Regions from separate parts of the Homo sapiens genome. Here region 1 is linked to region 2. Evidence: fine-mapped expression QTL. A gene starts in region 2. The other region holds a variant in brackets. All regions are shown on one strand. Distances are between the middles of the regions. Region 1 holds the start of TRC-GCA20-1 (tRNA-Cys (anticodon GCA) 20-1). Region 2 holds the start of ZNF746 (zinc finger protein 746).

The links. PIP is the estimated chance that this variant, and not a neighbour inherited with it, causes the effect.
Region 1: its variant is fine-mapped to the expression of ZNF746 in whole blood (TOPMed, PIP 0.96).

What each region holds. Positions count from the first base shown.
Region 1 is chr7:149,595,377-149,598,282 of GRCh38, reverse strand. It overlaps TRC-GCA20-1 (tRNA-Cys (anticodon GCA) 20-1), which reads right to left and starts at 328; the gene lies at 257-328. It also overlaps the pseudogene ZNF767P. The variant C/A (reference allele first, on the strand shown) is at 1,272.
Region 2 is chr7:149,496,456-149,499,361 of GRCh38, reverse strand. It overlaps ZNF746 (zinc finger protein 746), which reads left to right and starts at 1,553. Exons shown (of 7, transcript NM_001394198.1): 1 at 1,553-1,849. The coding sequence starts at 1,826. RefSeq lists silencers at 1,189-1,858, 2,099-2,158 and an enhancer at 2,292-2,906.

The DNA of each region.
Region 1 (2,906 bases), 99 kb before region 2:
ATACTGCATCACAGCTTGAGAAATTACATCTATAGGGGGAGCAGGGAGCTAGATACCAAGAATACCAAGAATATGAGGGATACCCGTGGAACTGGTGCTGGGAGAAGTTATCCAGCCAGGTTGCAGCTGGGTAGGCCTGAGCTGTAGCTTCCAGTTCCAGGGAAAATCATAGGTGGAATGGATGAAAAGAAACTGGAATGTGACCAACAGCTTCTGTGAAGAATATAACAGCTTGTATGAATAGAAAAAGTGCAGTAGGGGGCACCCAGATTTGAACTGGGGACCTCTTGATCTGCAGTCAAATGCTCTACCCCTGAGCTATACGCCCTGCTTGTCATAAGTGTCTAATAACCACTTTTCATGTTGGTAATCGCACCCAGGAGTCCTACAGCACATTGAAAGTTCCTGCTTACTTTTAGAGAGTAAGACCAGCAACTGATTTTACCACAAACTCACCCCAGAAAAGTCCATCCCCAGTTGCCAAACCCTGGCCCCTGCTCACATGCCTGCACAATCTCCCCGCTTTCCCTCAGTCCGTGGTGACAGGAGCAGCTGAGAGGAGTGTTTCCGTTTACTGCTGGAACAGCCTTTAGGTCTCCATGTTTGATGTCTTCTTGTTTACACTACAAAATAGCAGTTTGGAGACACAAATTGAGACACATGCAGTACTGACATATATAGATATCTCTCAGTCTGGGATCTTTGCATTAAATCCAGTTCATGAAAGACTTGGTGAAGTTGGGGGAGTTCCTAGGCCCTGACATGGATCAGAGAGTAGTCCTGGGAAGCATCATGGAGACAACATAGCATGAGGACCACACAGCTCCTCCAGGTTTTGGCCAGAAAACTCCGCTGCTAGTGTGGAAAGCTCTACCCTGAACTACACCTCCATTCCCAGTGCATGGCTGTTTTTAACGTTACATATATTTTTATAATTTATCAGAAGTTTGGACTGGTTGGAGCCCACCACAGCGCCACAAAGCCTCCGTAGCCAGACTGCCTTTCTAGATTCCTCCTCTCTGGGCAGGGTATCTCTGAAAGAAAGGCAGTAGCCTCATTCAGGGCCTTGTAGATAAAACTCCCATATCCCTGGGACAGAGCACCTGGGGGAAAGGGGTGGCTGTGGGCACAGCTTCATCAGACTTAAACTTTTCTGCCTGCCGGCTCTGAAGAGAGCAGTGGATCTCCCAGCACAGTGCTCAAGCTCTGCTAAGGGACAGACTGCCTCCTCAAGTGGGTTCCTGACCCCCGTGCCTCCTGATGGGGAGACA[C/A]CTCCCAGCAGGGATCAACAGACACCTCATGTAGGAGAGCGCTGGCTGGCATCTGGCGTGTGCCCCTCTGAGACGAAGCTTCCAGAGGAAGGAGCAGTCAGCAGTCTTTGCTGTTCTGCAGCCTCTGCTGGTGATACCCAGGAAAACAGTGTCTGGAGTGGACCACCAGCAAACTCTTAGCAGACCTGCAGAAGAGGGGCCTGACTGTTAGAAGGAAAACTAACAAACAGAAAGCAATAGCATCAAATAAACGAAAAGGACGACCACACAAAAACCCCATCTGAAGGTTACCAACATCAAAGACCAAAGGCATTTCTCTATTTCTCTTTCTTTCCCTTCTTTCACTCCCTCCCTCCTTCCCTTCTTCCTTCTCTTTTTTTTCTTTTGAGACAAGGTGTTGCTCTGTCACGCAGGCTGAAATGCAGTGGCATGATCATAGCTCACTACAGCCTCAAGCCATCCCACCTTAGCCTGCTCTATAGCTGGGACTCCAGGTACATGCCATGACATTTCACAGGACATATCCACAGAAAATTGTGGCATTAGCATGATTTGAGGGTGAGATTTTTGGCCCTCTTATATCAAAAGGCCACCTCTCAGGCACTTGCTCAGACCAGTTGAAGAGTCAGTTGTCTAAACCAGTTTTAGCTGGACAGGAGCTGGCCCAAGTGCCTGAAAAACAACTGAAGTGACCATCACCATGTGACCTACGTAAGTTCTATAAAGCCTCCCATGAAAGTTAAGTTTCTGCATTGAGCATTGAGGCTTTCAGGTACGGTGGCCTTCAGCTTCGTGGAAATAGGGAAATAATAACAACAAAAAGCAAGCAGGGCAGTTGGGCCTGATCAGATTAATCCCTCCATTTGAAGGCAAGCAGGAAACAACCGGCCTTGGGGGCTCAGGGGTTACAAGGCACAAGTGAACCACTTGGAAGTGGCCCTGGATCTTCACTTATTTTTGCATCTGTGACCTTCACCATGAGACTTTGCAGATCTTCCCACTAGAGGTGGAACATGCTTCCCTGCTCTTGAGTTAGGGCTTGCTTCTCTGACTTGATTTGATCAATGAGATGTTAGCACATGTGATGCAAACAGAGGCTTGAAAGCTGCTTGCATAGTTGGGCCTCCCCCTTTGCATTTCTGCTGTCACCACCAGAAGAGTGTCCCCTTGCTAGCTGCTACTCCTCCAGCTGGGATTGTGGAAGGAACACACATGGAGCAAACTTGAGCCCGGCTCAGACAGAAACCAAGCACAGATGGACCCACAGCTTGAAGCAGACCCAGCCTACATCAGCTGATTGGCATCCATGCTGCTGACCTATCAGCACGAGACATGCTTATGGTTTCATACAGCCTAATTTTGGGATGATTTGTTGTGACACATTGTTGTGGAAATAGCTGACTAATACAGCCTTGATTCTTACACCTGCCTCTCCCCCAACCCTCATCCCCTATTCCCATCAGGTACTGAGTAAGGGAATGGGAGGAGATAGTTGAAGGAGTTCAGGTTGTGGCTACAGAGTAGGAAAGTACCATTAGACCAGTGAAGGGTCTCTGGGAAATGGAGGGGTGAACTCATGACCAGAAGGGCGGTCTCTAGTCAGTTGTGGTAGAGTTGCCAGTTTCCATAAGCTGG
Region 2 (2,906 bases):
AATGTCTCTTTATTTCTAATGCACTGTATTTCTGTCACCCAGTGGTGTGATCTCCACTCACTGCAACCTCTGCCTCCCGGGTTCAAGCGATTCTCGTACCTCAGCCTCCCCAGTAGTTGGGATTACAGGTGCGTGCCACCACGCCTCGCTAATTTTTTCTATTTTTAGTAGAGACGGGGTTTTGTCATGTTGCTCAGGCTGGTATCAAACTCCTGAGCTCAGGCAATCCACCCATCTTGGCCTCCCAAAGTGTTAGAATTACGGGCGTGAGCCACTGCGCCCGGCCCTAAAATGCTTTATATCTTCCTACATCAATTTTTTTTTGGGCTGTCATCCAGCTCACACCTCTACTACCACCCTCTGGTCTGAAATGCTCTCTGCCTATCAATATTTTGCCAATTCTTCAAGATCCAGCTCAAATTTTATCTATTCTGTAAGGTCTGCCTTCTTTGAAAAAGATTACAGATCTCTCACATATTTTCTTATCAGTGTGTGCTAGGCAGTTGGCTAGTTAGTCTTGGGGAATACACAGATGAGCAAGTCGTGTTCCTGAAAGGCAATGAGCCTCTGAAACTACGTGGGGGCCCGTCCAAGGCGCCCTCCTTCCCCTGCTCTGGTTGGCCTCTTTGAGAACATTTAAATTTTTATTTTTCTCTCCTTGTTTAAAAATACTATCCTTGTCATGGAAAAATAAAAACATGAATTGGAAAAAATTAGAAAAGGCATAAAAACGGCCCGTGGTCTATTAAAGGAATAGACCTTTAATAGAACTACTGAGGCCATGTTGATATATATGCTTCCAAACTTTTCAAAACTGTAATTATACATGTACGCAGTATATGACGCTACATATGTCCTATATTGTTTTAAAATGTTATTTTTAAAACAAAGACAGGATCGTCCTGGACAGGCTTTTTCTCTTAAAACATCATGAACATCTGTTCCTACCAAGACCTTCACCGAAATCATTTTAAATGATGGTATTGCGTCCCATTGCTCATGCCATTAAAAAAATTTACTGTAATAAACCCATTACAGAAAATGCTAAGTGGTTGCCTACCGGGGTTTACCGAACTATATTCCTGTTGTTGGAAGTATTTATTCCATTTCAAACACAGGTGGGCATGAGTTACATCTGTCCTCCCCAAAATAGCCTAAACCTCCAGACCCAGGACCTCGGGCAGCAGAAGTGCCCGTGGGGCGGGGGAAGGGGAGCCGGGCATCCCAGGGCGAGGGGGCCGCCCTGGCCGCGGTCACCCGGGGGACGCCCTGCCCGGAAGCCCGTGCTCGCCCGCGGGCGCGGCCAGGCGGGTCCCATGAGGGGGACCCTTTCAATAACCGAGTCCTCGGGCTGGGCCGCGGGGCCAGCGCAGTGACTCCCCCCGCGCTCGGCAGTCCGGCCGGGGTCGCGGGGTCGCGGGGTCGCGGGGTCGGCCCGGGGTCGCTAGGTCCTCCCGTCGGGCCCCGCGGGCGGGGCTGGGCGGGGCGGGGCGGGGCCGCGGGCAGGCGGGCGCAGCGCCTGCCGTTCGCCTCTCAGGCTGCAGGTGGGGCTGTGCGGCCGCGCTGCCTCCAGGAAGCCTCACGGGCCTTCGTCTGCCGGGCCGCGGCGCCGGCTCCCAGGATGCAGTGTGGACCGGCCGGGCGCTGACGGAGGCGGCGCGACTGCGGGCGGCGCGGCGCAGGGGCAGCCAGCGAGGAGCGGCGGCAGAGGAAAGGCCAGGCAGGCGCCGCCTGCGGAGAGCACCGGGCGGCCGGGCCTGCGTGGTGCCGCGCGCGGCGGCGGCGACGACGACTTCCTCCGGGCCGGGCGGGACAGCGCAGGGCCATGGCCGAGGCGGTCGCGGCTCCGGTAAGGGCGACCCGCGCGCGCAGGGACTCGCGGCCTGGGGGCCCCAGGCGGCCCGGCCCCGGCACACGGCGCCGCAGGCCCTGGGGAGGGGTTCCGGGGTCCGGGCCGGACCACCGGGCCTGGGGCTCCCGCGAATGGGGCGCGGGGTCCGCCGGGGCCTACTGCGCCCGTCGGCCGGGCCCCCACTCCGAGCCGAACCCGAGCGCTGGCGGAACGGTTGTCCCCGCCCCGGGCCGCCCCACGCCAAGTTCTTTGGGCCCTCCGGGGCTTCCTGCCCCCGCCCCAGCCGCTGTCCCCTCCTTCTGGGTGCCCCCCCACCCGCGGCTCCTTTCTCTGCCTGGCGCTCGGCCTGTAGGTCCCTCTCCATCTCCCCCGCAGCGGCCTGGTGGCACCTGGGAGGTGTCCGGCTTCGAATCCGCATACACCGACTCCCACTACGTGCCCAGCTTCCCGGGGTCGGCGCGGAAGGGAATATAGAGCCACGCACTTCCACAAGCCCTGTTGAGGCGTTAGTCTGTCCTCACAGCAAGCCTGTGGGATGGGTACTGGTGTTAATCTCTGTCATACAAAAGAAAAACCCGGGGCCTAGAGAACTTAACTTGCCCAGGCTTACCCAGCTGGAAAGTGTGAAAAGACACACAGTGGCTGTGTGTTCAAGGACCAGGCAGGCAGGTACGCGGGCAATAATCGTGCAAAACAGAAAGGGGTGAGTGCTGGCGCCCAGGTGGAAGCTTGCGGTGGGCTCCGGGGGAAGGAGTGTCAGGGGGCCTCTTGGTACCGCTGTCCACCCCTCCTGGCCTGATGCTCTGCGCCTCTGTGATTTGAGCCGGGCTTTTAGGGAAGGCTAGGATTTCAGGCCCAGCTAGACCGGTGGTGCTTTCAGGGAGGGAGGAGTGCCTGGGCAAAGGCGCAGAGAGACGGGACAGTGCAGGGCGTGTGCAGGCACAGAAAGGAGTCCATGAGCCTGGAGAAGATGGTTTTGGTTTGGAGGCAGTGGGAAAGGAGTCTGCAGAGAGAGACTAAGAAGGGGTTTGCATGCCTGGACTTCATCCTGCGG